2 separate regions of the Homo sapiens genome follow, and region 1 is linked to region 2. A link means that fine-mapping ties the variant in region 2 to the expression of a gene that starts in the linked region. Tissue or cell type: esophagus muscle. Region 2 holds a variant in brackets; the other region holds the start of a gene. All regions are shown on one strand. Distances are between the middles of the regions.

Evidence for each region. PIP is the estimated chance that this variant, and not a neighbour inherited with it, causes the effect.
Region 1: it holds the start of TAGAP-AS1, and the variant in region 2 is fine-mapped to the expression of TAGAP-AS1 in esophagus muscle (GTEx, PIP 0.98). The same link has a PIP of 0.9 or more in tibial nerve.

What each region holds. Positions count from the first base shown.
Region 1 is chr6:158,995,557-159,003,556 of GRCh38, reverse strand. TAGAP-AS1 (TAGAP antisense RNA 1) reads right to left here and starts at 3,684. Exons shown (of 5, transcript NR_183546.1): 1 at 3,165-3,684. It overlaps RSPH3 (radial spoke head 3), which reads left to right and starts at 3,355. Exons shown (of 8, transcript NM_031924.8): 1 at 3,355-4,122. The coding sequence starts at 4,007. RefSeq lists enhancers at 3,047-3,096, 2,669-3,640, 3,507-3,666, 3,837-3,906, 3,937-3,986 and 2 more.
Region 2 is chr6:159,040,139-159,048,487 of GRCh38, reverse strand. It overlaps TAGAP (T cell activation RhoGTPase activating protein), which reads left to right and starts at 3,497. Exons shown (of 10, transcript NM_054114.5): 1 at 3,497-3,609; 2 at 4,284-4,368; 3 at 4,457-4,510; 4 at 4,833-4,899; 5 at 6,244-6,410; 6 at 6,973-7,134; 7 at 7,656-7,765. The coding sequence starts at 4,342. It overlaps TAGAP-AS1 (TAGAP antisense RNA 1), which reads right to left. Exons shown (of 5, transcript NR_183546.1): 4 at 7,433-7,569; 5 at 5,432-6,690. RefSeq lists enhancers at 5,794-6,063, 6,637-7,836. The variant G/A (reference allele first, on the strand shown) is at 3,896.

The DNA of each region.
Region 1 (8,000 bases), 45 kb after region 2:
TGAGGTCAGGAGTTCGAGACCAGCCTGATCAACATGGTGAAACCCAGTCTCTACTAAAAAAATACAAAATTGGCCGGGCATGGTGGTGCACACCTGTAATCCCAGCTACCTGGGAGGTGAGACAGGAGAATTGCTTGAACCCGGGAGGTGGAGGCCACAGTGAGCCAAGACAGTGCCATTGTACTCCAGCCTGGGCAACAAGAGCAAAACTCCGCCTCAAAAAAAAAAAAAAAAAAAGTCATCCGTTCCTACTCTAATTGCTTGCCAGAATAAAATTAAATCCTTTCTGGAGAAACACAACATCAGCCACAGTCTCTATGCAATTTATTTATTTATTTTTTATTTATTTATTTAGTTTTTTTTTTTTTGCCAGAGCCTCTATGTGATTTTTTTCCTACACAATGTCTAACATTTAATCAGAAACCTTAGGTTCATCTCTTTTGCCTTTCTTTCTCTCGTGCACCACGTCACGTCCAATCTGTTCTACCTTCAAAATTGAGCTGGGATCTTCCCACCACTTTTGTCCCAGATCCAGAACCAAGCTCCACTGAAAGCAAGGCAGTCTGTCCCCCGACATGGCCTCGGCACTGACTCACTGCATCTCTCGGGCCCGAGCACCACACCTACACCAGATCCAAGCCACCCTCTCACCAGCCTTATTGGGAGCAGCTTCCTATCTGGTCTCTCTGCTTCTGCCTTTGCCCCACTTCAGTCTATTCTCAACCAAACAACTAGAAAAAACAAATTTTTTTAATCAAACTATGTCAAGCTTCTACTCAAAACCCTTTAGGGACTTTTAACCCTAGAGTAAAACCTAAAGTCCTTTCACTGACCTACAACAGGGCGCACGGCCCAGCCTCTGACTTCATCTCCGAATGCTCCTCCTTGTGCTCACTCTGCTCCACTCACTCTTACTGCCATCCCCAACACGACTTCCTGCCTTAGAACGAGGAATTGGCTGCTTCCTTGACCTGGAATGCTGTGACAATTAGTCACAAGTCTCAAGTTTCATTTCTTCACCTCCTTCAAGTCTTTACTCAAATGTCACCTTCTCAATGAAGCCTTCTCTGACCACTATAAAATTGATAGGTCTCCCATGCCCCTAGCACCTAGCCTTATTTCCTGCTTTATTTCGAATTAGCTATTATAATTATGTAACACCCATAATGTACTCACTTTTCTTGTTTGTATGACTCCTCCACTAGAATATAAATTCTGTCAAGGCAGGACTTTTAATCTGTTGTTTGTTTTTGTTTTTCACTGCTATATCCCCACTAACACCAGGGGAGTGGGGACGAGGGACAAGAAAACAACAATGCTTGGCACATACTAGATACACATAACTATTTGTGGAATGAATCTTTCAGTTTCAGATCATCCAAGAGTTGTCCACAAAATAGTCAGATATCCAGGACTGTCACCTGAGGGAGAAGTCTAGGTTAGAGATACATCCTTTGCTACCCTGAGTATATAGGTGGTACTAGAAATTACAGACGTGAAATGGGACTGCCCTGGGAGAAAGTACAAGAAGAGAAACAGGCTGTGGATAAAAACTTGTACAGGCCAGGCACAGTGGCTCACGCCTGTAATCCCAACACTTTGGGAGGCTGAGGAGGGCGGATCACCAGGTCAAGAGAACAAGACCATCCTGGCCAACATGGTGAAACCCCGCCTCTACTAAAAATACAGAAATTAGCTGGACGGGGTGGCACACGCCTGTAGTCCCAGCTACTCAGGAGGCTGAGGCAGGAGAACCACTTGAACCGGGGAGGCGGAGGTTGCAGTGAGCCAAGATCGCGCCACTGCACTCCAGCCTGGCCACAGAGCGAGACTCCATCTAAAAAAAAAAAAAAAGAAAGAAACTTGTACAAGAACCTATAGTGGCTATCAATTTCTTTATAAAGCCCACTGTGGCTGGTATAGCACTATTGTTTACCCACTTAATACCCACTCAATTCTGCCCCAACATCCTCCTAACAGAATTTGTTCTCCTCCTCCCTGGCCAAGTGTTTCTTGGAGGCCTAGAAAGACCGGTTACCTGGTCTAATCCAAATATGGTGGTCTTATATAGATCCTAAGCTTAAATCAATATGATGTAATTCTGGTCAGTTGGGAGTTTACGAGGGGGTTTTGCTCTTCCAATAAAGACAAAAGAGCAGATACTTCTATTACTACTTTGTTGAAGCCAACAACCCAGGTGACAGAGTGGAAAGGTAGGGGAAAAAACGTGTTGTTGATAATGTGCTGAGCCCCCAAGTTACCCTCCAGGTTAACCAACCTGGGGAGTGTAAAATAATGAATTCCTTATTATTTCAGCCACTTGGAATTGGTTTTTTGTTACTTGAGGGAAAAAATATTCTAATTAATATGCTAGTGTTTACTGTTTCCACGATGTGGTGTCAGCCTGTCTATATATATTTCTACAACTCATCTACACAAACCTTGCTTACAGTTTTCCAAATGCACCTTGGGCTTCTTGAGCCTTTGATCAAGCCATTCCGAATGCACTTCCCCCAAGAGGCTGGCCAGTTAAAATACTATCATTTATCAAACACAACTTAAATGTCACTTTCTCCTCTAGCCCTTTCAGAAATTACCTCAAAATTAAATGATCAGACCTAAAATATGTTGGGAGTGTTTTCACCTCTAGAATTTACCATACACCTTTATGCTAGTGTTACTTATAGAATGCCTACATCTGCTTTAGGTCATACACTTCAAAGCACAGAACGGTCCAGATCTTAATATAAAGGCTTGCCATTTACCAGGCACAGCTCTAAGTATTAACGGTTTTAATCCTCAAGACAAAACCTAAAGAGATAAATTCTTCTATTGCCACTTTGTGGATTAGGAAAATGAAGCACAAAAACATTTAACTTGCCTGAGGTTTCGGAGCTAGTACATTCTAGAACCTGGATTCAAATCAAGACAGCAATTAGCTGAATGAAGGTGTAACTGCAAATGCAAATAACTGATCACAAGGGATACACATTCACTCATACAAGATAGAAGATTTTTAACGTTGCTGGTACTAAAACCAAAGCGTCTGCGTTTTTAAGCGCAGCCCCACCCCGCAATACTAGAGACATTCTTTAGAGCTGGAAGCCTGATAGATTAAGGGGAACTATGCCTTTGTATTTTTTAAGACTCAATAAATTGCTCACTTCTTTCCCAAAATGAGGTGTCTGTGGGGGAGGCCCCTGTCGCTCCGTGTGCCAAGGGTCCTCCGATTGCTAGCACACAGCGGTGAGCAGAGAAGGTAGGTGAGGAACTGCACTGACTCAGCTGCAGAGGGCGGCGGCAGCCCGCCCCTGGGGCGGGAGAAGGGCAGGAGCCGGGAGACACCAGGAAGCTCTTCCCCGCCCGGGCACGTAACAGAGCTGGGAGCCTGGCTGCCAGGGGCGTGTTATCGCGGGGGCAGCCTGGGAGCGCTGCTGCGCCGCGGCAGGAGAAACAGCCGAGGACACCCTGGAAGAGCAGGAGCACGTGGGCCTGCGAGAATGGCGCCAACACCAGCCCTGCAAAGCCACATTCCAAAGCCGGGCCAAGGACAGCCACCGTTGCCCCGCAGGCCTCAAGGATGACGGTCAAGCCAGCCAAGGCCGCCTCCCTAGCCAGGAACCTCGCAAAGCGCAGGCGCACCTACCTGGGTGGCGCGGCTGGGCGGAGTCAAGAGCCGGAAGTCCCTTGTGCCGCAGTCCTTCCCGGGAAACCTGGGGACCGGAACTGCCCGGAGTTCCCGCCCCCAGACAGAACCCTGGGTTGCTGGGCAACCGATGCGGCCCCCGCAGCTGGTCTCTGTGGTGCTGGGAGCGAGCCCAGTATAGCTCCCACCTCCTGCGCTGGTAACCTCCCGTCCCGCCCGCCTCCCTTGTTGTCGCCTCTCCTCGCGTCGCGGAATCCTTGCCCTTGGCACTACTTACATCTCTCCGGGTCCCACAACACCTTAGCGCCCACCTGCTTCAAAGCCAAGCTCCACCGAAAGCGAGGCAGTCAGCCCCCGGACATGGCCTCAGCGCTGACTGATCGCACCTCTCGGGCCCCGAGCACCTACACCTACACCAGCCGGCCCCGAGCACTGCCCTGCCAGCGCAGCCGTTACCGGGACAGCCTGACGCAGCCGTGAGTGACCAAGCCAGCCCCTGTGTGGTCCATACTTGCACCCCATCCCCAGGCCGGGGTCTGGCCCCTTCGCCCTGGCAAAAAAGCTGCTTATGCTGTCTTCCCTTGGCTGCACTCTGCCGAAATAAAAGTTCTGCCCTAAGGAATCTCCCGTGGTGTGGAGGAGTGAAGCAGGAAGGGGCATGGGTTGGGCATCAGTTAACTTTTAGTGATATGAGTTGCTGCCGTGGTCCTTAACATGTACACGAATTGGCTCATTTCACAAAGTTTGAATTGTACCAGTGTGTATTGAGGGCCAACTACGTGCTGAGCACCTTACGGGGGGCATTCAAATACGTTTTCTTAGTTAATCCACAGTGCTGTGAAGTTGATTTTATAACTCCATTATGCAGATGAGGAGACCGCGGTGCAAAGATATCCAACAGTAGCATATCCAAAATGGGAGCCGAGTAAATCTCTTCGGCAGGCTTTGAGCAGGAGTAAGATTATTCTTCCATGCAGGACCACAGATTGGTTTTTTGTGGTGGTGGTGGTGGTGGTGGTGGTGGTTGCTGTTGTTGTTTTGAGACGGAGTTTCGCTCTTGTCGCCCAGGCTGGACTGCAATGACGCGATCTCCGCTCACTGCAACCTCCGCCCCCCTCCCCCACTCCTCCCCGATCAAACGATTCTCCTGCCTCAGCCTCCCAAGTAGCTGGGACTAGAGGCGCCCTCCACCACCCCCGGCTAATCTTTGTATTTTTAGTAGAGACAGGGTTTTGCCACGTTGGCCAGGCTGGTCTCAAACTCTTGGCCTCAAGTGATCCGCCCGCCTCGGCCTCCCAAAGTGCTGGGATTACAAGCGTGAGCCACCGCGCCCGGACGGCAGTTTGTGTTTTTACATCCATGAACAGTTGCAAATATTCAAACATACATAGGAAAGAAAAAAAACAAAACATAAGCCTTTTTTTTTTTCTTTTTTTTTTTTTGAGACGGAGTCTCGCTCTGTCGCCCAGGCTGGAGTGCAGTGGCACAATCTCGGCTCACTGCAACCTCCACCTCCCGGGTTCACGCCATTCTCCTGCCTCAGCCTCCCAAGTAGCTGGGACTACAGGCGCCCGCCACCACGCCCGGCTCTTTTTTTTTTTTTTTTTTTTTTTGTATTTTTTTAGTAGAGACGGGGTTTCACCATGTTAGCCAGGATACTCTCGATCTCCTGACCTCATGATCCGCCCGCCTCGGCCTCCCAAAATGCTGGGATTACAGGCCTGAGCCACCACACCCAGCAAAAAAAACATAAACTCTTAAAGTTCTCTTAAAGTTAAACGGTTCTCTAAAGTTCTTTCCATAAGCCTCAAATGTTGAATTCAGCAGAACTTTATAGGAATGCAAGCTCCATGGATGCAGGAACTTTTGCATCTTTTGTTCACCTAGTACAATGCCTGGTACATAGTAAGCACTTAATACGAATTGTCAAACTGATGATTGAACATCAACAATGTAATTATTGATGCTTATTTCAAACGCTCTTTCTAAATTCATAATTATCTTGTTCTAACAAATTCTTTTTCTATAAGAGATGTCTATCACTGTAAGAAAACTAAAATAGAAAATTTAAATTTGAAGAGTGATCATTTATATTAGAAAAGGATTCAATTTTAAAATTTTCTAATCCTTCCAAAAACACTTTCTGGTGCCTTTAAGTGGTTGCTTACAAATCATTACTATCCAATCAGACCAACAGATTAGAAACAAGAATCAATGGTGGTTCATTAGGAACAACTTTTTTGATAGTTGATTAGTATATTGAAGTAATCTATTGATTAGTTTATTAGTATATCTGAGTAATGCACAAGACAGAAAAATCTCAATTTTGAGGAAGTATTATCTTACAAATCATAATCATTGATATCCTAATGGATAAAATACTGATATTTTATCCATAATTTGCTTATGGATAAGGATAATATTCTCCTCTGATATCCTTATGAATAAAATATTTTTTAAGTGTTCAGGAGAGTAGCCGGGCATGGTGGCATGTACCTGTAATCCCAGGTACTTGGGAGGCTGACGCAGGAGGATCACTTAAACCCAGAAGGCGGAGGTTGCAGTGAGCCAAGATCACGCCACTGCACTCCAGCCTGGGCGACAAAGCGAAACTCTGTCTCAAAAAAAAAAAAAAAAAAGTGTTCAGGAGAGTACTTGTCTTAATCCATCTTATGTTGCTCTAACAGAGTATCTGAAACTGGATAGTCTATAAAGAGATCTATTTAGCTCACAGCTCTGCAGACTGAGAAGTACAAGAGCATGGTGCTGGCATCTGCTTGCCTTCTAGTGAGGGCTTTTCTTGTTGTTTCATAACATGATGGAGAAGGTCAAAGGGGAAGCAGATCCGTGGGAAGTGGCCAAACAGGAGGAAGTACCTCATTTTGTAGCAACTTGCTGTCTCTGGAACTAGTCCTGTGAGAACTTAATCCAGTCTCTTGAGAGTAAGAGTTCCCTCACTACTGCGAGAACTGGTGCCAAGCCATTCATGAGGGATCCACCCATGTTCCAAACACCTCCCACTAGGCCCCACTTCCCAACACTGCCATATTGGAAATTAAATTTCCATGTGAGTTTTAGTGGAGACGACAAACCATATCCAGACCACAGCAGTACTTTTAGTACTTGCTGGTGAGTAACTAAATGACCATATCCAAAAAGAGTATGCTTTTGTGTCAATCTGTCTCTATCCTAGAATGTCGTTTAGTTCTTTCATGTTCAAAATTTTATGTTGAACTGGATAAATCTTCAGTTTTTCAGATGACACATGGCTGGAATGGATAACTAACTTATGACTGAAGGGAGTCAAGGTTCTAAATTATCTTGATTGGGTATATATAACTGGGCTGAAACCAAAAAATGAAACTTAATTGGAAAGCTGTGAAGTTTTACTTAGGTATGAGAAGTCAGTTACACAAATACAGAAATGGGAGTATCTGATTTTTCCTTTGAAAGGGTCTAGAAATTTAACACAAGTCTAATGTGAATCAAGAACTTCCACCTTTTCATAGGATTATAAAGCTGAAAGAGAACATTTGAATACTAGTCTTCTCATTTACAAACAAGAGAATGTAATACATCTTTTATGTATTTCTTGGTAGTTGGGTGATCATAAATGCCATTAAATTCACCTTTAGGCATGTGTGAAAAGACAATTGTGATAATGACATTCCCTCATTTTACAAATCCTTTGGTAAAGGATATATAACCCTTCCAATAAAATAACATTTTTAATGCAAATGAATTAAAACCTTAGAACATACCTTTTTTTTATTTTTATTTTTACTCAGGTCAAATAAGGTTTAAAATCACCGTAGAGGGCAGAATAATGATTCCCCAAAGATGTCCTCTTCCTAGTCCCCAGAACCTGTGAACATGTTATGTGGTAAAAGGGACTTTGAGATGTGATTACATTAAGGATCTTGAGATGGGAGATCTTGAGATGGGAAATTAGCCTGGCTTATCCAGGTGGGCCCAGTAGAATCACAGTGGGGCCTTAAAAGTAAAAGAAGAAGGATGGGCACGGTGGCTCACGCCTGTAATCCCGGTACTTTGGGAGGCTAAGGTGGGCGGATCACGAGGTCAGGAGATCCAGACCATCCTGGCTAACACGGTGAAACCCCGTCTCTACTAAAAAAATACAAAAAAAAATGAGCCGGGCGTGGTGGCGGGCGCCTGTAGTCCCAGCTACTCGGGAGGCTGAGGCAGGAGAATGGCATGAACCCAGGAGGCGGAGCTTGCAGTGAGCCAAGATTGCACCTCTGCAGTCCAGCCTGGGTGACAGAGTGAGACTCTGTCTCAAAAAAAATAAAAATAAAATAAAGTGAAAGAAGAAGGCACAGGAGTCTGAGTCATA
Region 2 (8,349 bases):
CAGATGGCGTGAATGGCATTTCAGGAGGAGGGAACAATTTATCAAAGGCCTGGAGACTCAGAAGCACACTTTTAGGGGATGACAACAGCCTGTGTGGCTAAAACATAGGACAAGTGGGAGATGGGGAGGACGGATAATCAGAGAAAAGGCTGGATTGCCCTTTTTTAAAAAAAAGAAATTGTAATTTGAGTTTTCTAGAAAATCAACCTGTTAATCAGTCATTAGGTAGCCAGACACTGGGGTGATGGAGAAGTCCTGAAGGAAATCGTGAACTCTTTGGGAAAATAATCTTCAATGCAGGAAACTGTTGACATTAATCTCATTACAGAATGCAGGGCTCTGAATCACTGGGTGGTCCCAGGAAGAGAAAGGGAAAGTGAGTTCAAACTGAAGAGCCGGACTCTAATCCTCCAGTTGGTGTTTCCCAGGCAAGCTGGGTAAACAATGTGGGGAAAATGACTTCCATATTCTCGTTCACAACAGTCCAGACTGAAGCGGTAACTGAGCCTGAAAGTATGGGAAGGAACGATGGTGCTTCCAGTCACCCTCCAAAGCACACATGTACACAGCATAGAACTCACAGTCCCCAGAACGGAACTCACTGTCCTTAGAGACTCACCACAAGAAAAGCAAAGCCAATTATTTGCAGAAAAATTGATTGTGACCAGGACCCAAGCGATAAAAGTCCCACTGTGAGAAGCATCTTTACAGGTGTGGGTTTCACCGGGGTTTCCTTCAGCCCAACCCAGCAAAAGCCACTGAAGTTCCTTTCCACGTTCTGAAGACTCTTACTATGCAGGACGATGAGAGCTTGCTTTTCAAAGAGATGTGTGGGAGACAAGAATATGGAAAAAGTGAATCTGACATTTCCATCTTTTTTTCTAACTTTTGGCATGACTGCTTCCAAATTTTACACTTTATTTATAAATGTTTCTCCTAGTGCTCGGAAAACTGCGATCAAAATTACTGTGAGATTTTCAGAGTTGAGGGTGCAGCACCTGCCCTTCACAACTCTTTCTCTTTCCACAGTAGGCGCCATATGCAGGCGGGGCCACAGTCATAAAGGAGAACGTCTCCTCAGTCCCCCAGCAGCACCAGCCAACAATGGTGGCTTTCCTTCAGTCACAAAATGTACCTATTCATTAGATGTTGACTGTCAAAATCTCCCAGGGACCCCAAAGGATGGCACCTCCCTCTGGGCTTTCCCACCATCAGTTGTGTCAATAAGAAGAGCCAAAACATATTTCTGTTTCAAAAAATGGAGGGGCCCTAATTCTGTTGCCGTATTTGCTACTAACTTTTCATCCTAGATAGTTCCCTGGGTGCTTAACTAGGCATGGTAGGTCCCAGAAGAAAAAGAAAAGTCCGTCGATGTAACCATTTCTGCAGGTCATCAAACCATTCATGTTATGTATTTTTAAAAGATGCTGAGGCTGGGCACAGTGGCTCACATCTGTAATCCCAGCACTTTGGGAGGCCAAGATGGGTGGATCACCTGAGGTCAGGATTTCCAGACCAGCCTGGCCAACATGGCGAAACCCCATCTCTACTAAAAATACAAAAATTAGCCAGGTATGGTGGCGCGTGCCTGTAATTCCAACTACTCAGGAGGTTGAGACAGGAGAATCACTTGAACCCAGGAGGCAGAGGTTGCAGTGAGCCGAGATCACGCCATTGCACTCCAGCCTGGGTGACAAGAGCGAAACTCCATCTCAAAAAAAAAAAAAAAGAAAGAACAGTAAGTACATTAAGTTTCTTACAAAAATTTGAAAAGTCCGTTTGTCGGGAAAAAAAAAAGTTTAGAAAATACATACTAGCAATGAATATACATCACATATATATTCTATGATATATAGAACATTATAGTAATATTCTATTTTGGCTATTTTATAAGGAAATGTATATATTCAGAAATTAGTTATTTAGTACCTACTATATGCCTAGCACTAGGCTGGGCACAGCGTAAATGCCCTTTTTCAATTAAAAAAATCAGTGAGTTCACTTTGGAGGTTTATAAAGGCAGGAGAGGGATGCTGAAAGAGTGGTGGCCTCTACAGCTGCCCTGGGAACACTGGGTGAACTCTGGCACTGTGGTGGCTTTCAGAGAGGGAGCCCCCAGCTGGAAGCCTGAAAACCAGGATCTGTCCCTAGGTCCCCACCGAGCCGCTAAGTTACAGAGCAAATTTCGACCTCTCTGTGCTTCGGTTTCCCAAAGTCTGCCCCATAATCACCTCCTTTCAGTAAAATGACAAAAGAACTGACAATGCGGAAAAGTCTTAAAATTAAAGATGCTGATGATAAATGAAGCCAAGTTATTTTAAAACTTTTTATTGAAAAATTACATAAATAGGGAAGTGTGCACATAAGCCTAGCACCACCCAGATCAAGAATGGACCATCACCAAGCCCCCCGCTGGCCCCTGGAAGTCATTACCATCCCCTCTGGGAAACTGCTACTCTTGCTTCCAACAGCACAGACGACTTTTGCTAATTTTGTGCTTTGCATTAATGGGAGCCGGCAGGATATACACTTTCACGTCTGGCTTCTTTTGCTCAGCGTCATATTATGAGATCCAACCATATTGTTGGCTATAGTCATAGGCTGTTCATTATCAGTGCTATACAACATTCATTCCCTATGTGAATGGATCACAATTTATGCATCCATTCTCGTGTCGAGGCATTTGAGTGGTTTCATATATAGCCCTTGATCTACAGAAAAGATCAGAAATTCTCTTATGCAGAAGAGTGATCCACAAATGAAATTCACCATCTCTTTCCTACTTTAAGTTGGTCTGATCAAAGGAATTTTTTTGTTTGTTTTCCTTCCGTGTCAGAACGACAGCTGCTCTGACTGTAAATTAAGTATCAATACTTTTGACCAGGAGTTACAGAAAGGAGGAGGGGGTTACTATATTGACAACTGACTCGAGGGAGTTTTCTTTCTACTTCCAAAGGAAACTAACCTGGCTTTGGACGGTGATTGTTCCTCAAGGAAGGGACTGTCTTGGGTTTCTTTCTGGTTCTGTAACAGTGTCCCACATCCAGGGGTGCTAATCAACGTGTGGTGCTGGTGGACAGAGCAGATGGCACGTGGGAGGGGAAAGAGCACCCAAACAGGATGCAAAAAGAGGCACTTGAAATTACCACTTTAGAAAATAAAGTGATGTTTATGCACAGAATAACACAATTTCTTGTTCACACATCCCACCTATGACATTAATCAGAGCCTTCACCTATGGGCTGAATGTCATGTTTTCCACTCCTAGTAGTTTACAGATTTTTTACTTTGAAGTGGAAGACACAAAAAAAAAAAAAAAAAAAAAAAAAAAAAAAGACATAGCTGCCCTAAAAGGAATGAGGAAGCGAGAGCTCTCCAGTGTCTGGCTGGCTCCGTCCGTGTGACAGCCCATGATGTTCTTTCCGGTCTCTGTAATATTCTGAATTTCCACCTGCCCGCCCCTTCGCTTATAATGCAGAGCATGTGAAGGGAGACCGGCTCGGTCTCTCTCTCTCCCAGTGGACTAGAAGGAGCAGAGAGTTATGCTGTTTCTCCCATTCTTTACAGCTCACCGGATGTAAAAGAACTCTGGCTAGAGACCCTCCAAGGGTAAGTACACTATATATTAACATGCCTAGAAATTACAAGCTGCCTCGCAAGTCACAGGTCACTCAGATCACAGGCAACAGAAAACAGCTATCCCGTGGAATATGCTCTCACTTTATAAAGTCTCAGGACAAAGCTTTGCTTCAACGTGAAGGCTGCACCTTTTTGGTGTAGGAGTTCTGTAAATGTTATCTTTGTTTCATGTTTACTATTTTAGCATCCTAGGGATATGTTTTTTTTTTTTTCCTTTTTGGATTAGATGAGAAAATCCATGCAAAGCACCTACTAC[G/A]ACAGCTGGCATATAGTCAGCACTCCACCAAAAAAGTTAATGTTCATGTTAATTTAAAATGTTAACGTAATTGATATCCAGATTATCTCTTGATGGAACGGAATAAATTGGTAACAACGTTTAGAGTGGTAAAGATAGTTGACTTAAATAATTTAGAAATAATTGTGTTCAGATGCTGCTCTTAACAACATACAACATCTGGTAACAGAACTGATTTTAAATGAAAACTTGTCTATGTAATAGTTTTTTCCAAAGTAAAGGCAAGTGAAAAAATAGCAAAAGAGAAAAATAAATAAATAGTTTCAAACTCTGTGCTTTGGCAAAGTGGCGCTGAAAGTGGCCTACTGTGTGAGTCCCTCCTAACTCCTTTCCATGTGATTCGTTGTAGACAGAGGCACAGCCACACGGGAGTGAAATCCACCCCTGGACAGTCAGCCGCAATACTGATGAAGCTGAGAAGCAGCCACAATGCTGTGAGTGCCCCTCTCACATTCATTCATTCACGTTTCCTACAGGCAAGGGCCAAAAGATATTTACCTAATTTTATTTTTTCTCTTTTAGTCAAAAACACTAAACGCCAATAATATGGAGACACTAATCGAATGTCAATCAGAGGTAAGAAAGCAATTTTTAAGACTTTTTATCTGTACTGTGAGAAGGTGGAAAACTTTGTTTTAATTGAATATTATTTGGGTTGAATAGTAATTATAAGAGTAGTAAACTAACATCACACATGTAGTAAATTAAGCACATTAATTAGGATCTTATATGATGACAATCAAGACCTTAATATTGCTTCTAGAAGCTAGAAAAAACATCAATGCACTCTACTGACTTCATTTTTAATATGAATAAAATGCTGTATGTGTGTTTTGTGGGGAAAGACTCGATAGGTTTCTTCAGTCACTATATTTAACTGAAATAAAAATGTTTTTAGGGTGATATCAAGGAACATCCCCTGTTGGCATCATGTGAGAGTGAAGACAGTATTTGCCAGCTCATTGGTGAGTTTTAAAAACATACCGATCTTTTATGTAAGTGCTAACAACCAGTGCTCTTGGTTTGCAAAACCACAGCGCTTTTACTCTACTAGGAATTTTTTTGTATAAGTTGTTCTGTTAAAGACCGCAGAACATTAACCCTTAAATGGCAGGTATGCTCCAACTCACTAGAGCAGGGAGTGCTGGGAAAGGAAAGAGCCTCTCCATAGAGAATCCCCAGTTCTGCCAAGCGTTTTTAATGCGGTTCAATCTCCTGGCCATGTATGTTTCGACAATTAGCATGCACACATTTGAAAAACACACAGTGTCTTTTCCATTTTCTTCCTTCTCTTATGGAGAATGCATCCAAGAGCCTATGAAGCAACTGTTGCTGATCTCAAATCCCAAAGGACCCACCATTCACTCTCAACTTTTTTCATAATGCATTTCATTATAGCGTAACCCTGACCCAGTTCTCCTGAACCATAAAGACAGGCCACTTCTTTCTCATCATGCTTCCACTTGCCAATCTGAAATGTATAGAAACAGATGCCAATGCATTTAGAAAATATAGCCTTTATAATTAGTAAGAAAGGAGAAGGAAGGAAGGAAGGAAAAGAAAAGAAAGAAGGAAATGTTTGAGATTGCAATATCCATTGCACACACATCTTGTGGATTTCAGAAGGACAGAATATCTTGATAACGTTTTGCTGATAATTCCCAGTTGCCAGATCTAGGTTCAAGGCTTCCCGCAGCGATTCGTATTTGCCTCTGTCCTAAAGCAGCAACCTGGAAAACCCAAGGTGACCAGTCACCTGGAAGGAAAAATGGTGTTAGCTCCCTCTAGTGGCTGTTTAGTGCCTGCGTGGCTGCAAAGGGTTGGAGCCAGCCCTGCTATGTGCCTTCGAAAAGATATTCAGCAAGTCACTTCCTCACCTTTTAAGTTTCGTTTTCTTCGCCAGTTAAAGGAGGAAATCAAAATAATCTATTTCATATCAGAAATTTCCTCTATAGTTATTCAGGCCAGTAGGTTAAGATGGTTGTTTATGATCAGCACAGTTAGGTTTTGCTAATTTTCTGTAGCAAACAGCTGGAAAGAGTGAAAACAGGAAAGGTGGAGGCCTTGAGGAACTCTGGTGTTGCTGTTTAGGGAACTGGTTGCCCTGGTAACAGTGTGGTTGTTTATCGGTTGGTTTTTCTAGATTAAGATTCACGCCCTTTGCTTTCTCAAGTTTTCAAAATTATTTTTCTCACATCGCATACTATTGACCACATTATGCGGCCAACGATACCCATTTTCTTACCTGGATCTTTGCTTCTTAACACTGTAGTCTAATTTTTCTCGTTGCCTTGTTTTCTTGGCTGTAGAAGTTAAGAAGAGAAAGAAGGTGCTGTCCTGGCCCTTTCTCATGAGAAGGCTCTCCCCTGCATCAGATTTTTCTGGGGCTTTGGAGACAGACTTGAAAGCATCGCTATTTGATCAGCCCTTGTCAATTATCTGCGGTGACAGTGACACACTCCCCAGACCCATCCAGGTAGGCGTGCATTCTCTCATAAACCTACTTCAGTTTTCAGTTGGACATGCAAAATACTCGGGAAATCTGAATGTCATTCTCCTATTAAGTTTGTAGGGACTGATCTTCCATATTTTCCACTCTTCAACATGGCACTCCCACATACGCGTGCAGTCAGAAGAATATCTGACTGCTTCCATTCCAGAAATTGAAATTAGTTGTATTTGCCAATGAGCTCAGAGCTATGGTCCCGCCATTCCTCTGACTTCACAGAGTGGAGAATGCTGAAGATTTGTAGCTTCTGAAAAGTCAAAAGGGGGAAACAGAATATAGACTTTGTGATCTGAAATCCAATGTTCATATGGAAGTATTTGAAAGGAGAGAGCTCCAAAGTGATTTTAGAAAGTGCAAAATTAGAGCTTTCACAATTTGCCTCCTCTTAGAAAAATAGCAGGGTTGAGGAAGGCCATTGACAGCAACTGGACTGAAAGCAAAATCTGACATCAATATTCCTGTTAAGACTATCTCAGTATACTAAAGAAGAAGGGTAACCCTTTCCTGTTCCTATTGCTGTTTCCTTTAGGACATTCTCACTATTCTATGCCTTAAAGGCCCTTCAACGGAAGGGATATTCAGGAGAGCAGCCAACGAGAAAGCCCGTAAGGAGCTGAAGGAGGAGCTCAACTCTGGGGATGCGGTGGATCTGGAGAGGCTCCCCGTGCACCTCCTCGCTGTGGTCTTTAAGGTGAGTTCAACACACTTGCGCCAAATAACCTGCCAAGGGGCCCTGACACACTCATTCTCAGGATGCAAGAAATAGGCTCTTCTCCCCACACAGCAAGGTACACTGATCTTGGAGTTTAATTTTTTTCATTAAGCCCTTTATTTATTTATTTAGTAAGCACCTCTGTTTCTGTGACCTCAGATTCCAACAGAAAGTGATGCATTCTGCTCTCCCAAAACTTTGCCAAGTACGGGCAATTTGATTGTTCCGTGGCAGAATCCATACGTCAAAATCCAGTGGCCCCTCAGAACACACCCACCTGGGGATGGTGCCTCTGACTCTGCCTGATGTTAGAAAGTTGCAGAGAGGCCAAGGGTGTTGGAGAGAGGGTTCCCTGGATTCATCAAATGCAGGAATGAAGGGCCACAATCTATGATGGGCTAAGCATAGAGCACCCTGCGATGGAACGAAAACCGGGTGAAAACAAGGACATGGGACATCATACAGTACCAATAGGCCAACAGCCCACTCTCATCCCCCAGGACTTCCTCAGAAGTATCCCCCGGAAGCTACTTTCAAGCGACCTCTTTGAGGAGTGGATGGGTGCTCTGGAGATGCAGGACGAGGAGGACAGAATCGAGGCCCTGAAACAGTAAGTCATCAAAGTCATCGGTCATTGCCAGGCCACATCACCTCCGTCTTTTGATTCTTTACACAGCTTTCTAAATGCTTCATGATCCCTGTTCCATGAGAATTGTGATGTTTAGGGAATCCGAGTGGAATTGCTCGTCCACTCCCAGAACAAAAACCAGAGGGTGCCCTGGACTTTTGAATTTTAATTTTAGCCAAATGAAATATTTCTTCAAAAAGTAGAAAGCGAACTTCAATCCTCACAAATCCCAAGAGGTAGGGAAGTCTGAAAATGTAAGATGTTCAAAAAGGTATGAGATAAAATCAGACCTGAGAACTTTAACACAGGCTCACCAGCAAAGTGTAGAAATTCGGGATTATCTTTAAGCTACACTGACTGGTGTCATGCAAGGCAACAGTTCTCCCATAAAACATCCCTCAGGATGCAGCCAGACAGTGTGGTGGGGGGCAGTTGTTTTGTTCATAAAACTTCACAGCATATTTCATCTTCTTATAATTAACCCAAATGAAAACTATATAATAACACATTCCAGTGAGAGTAAAAATAATAACATATGCAATGGAAAGTGTGATCTGTTAGTGACT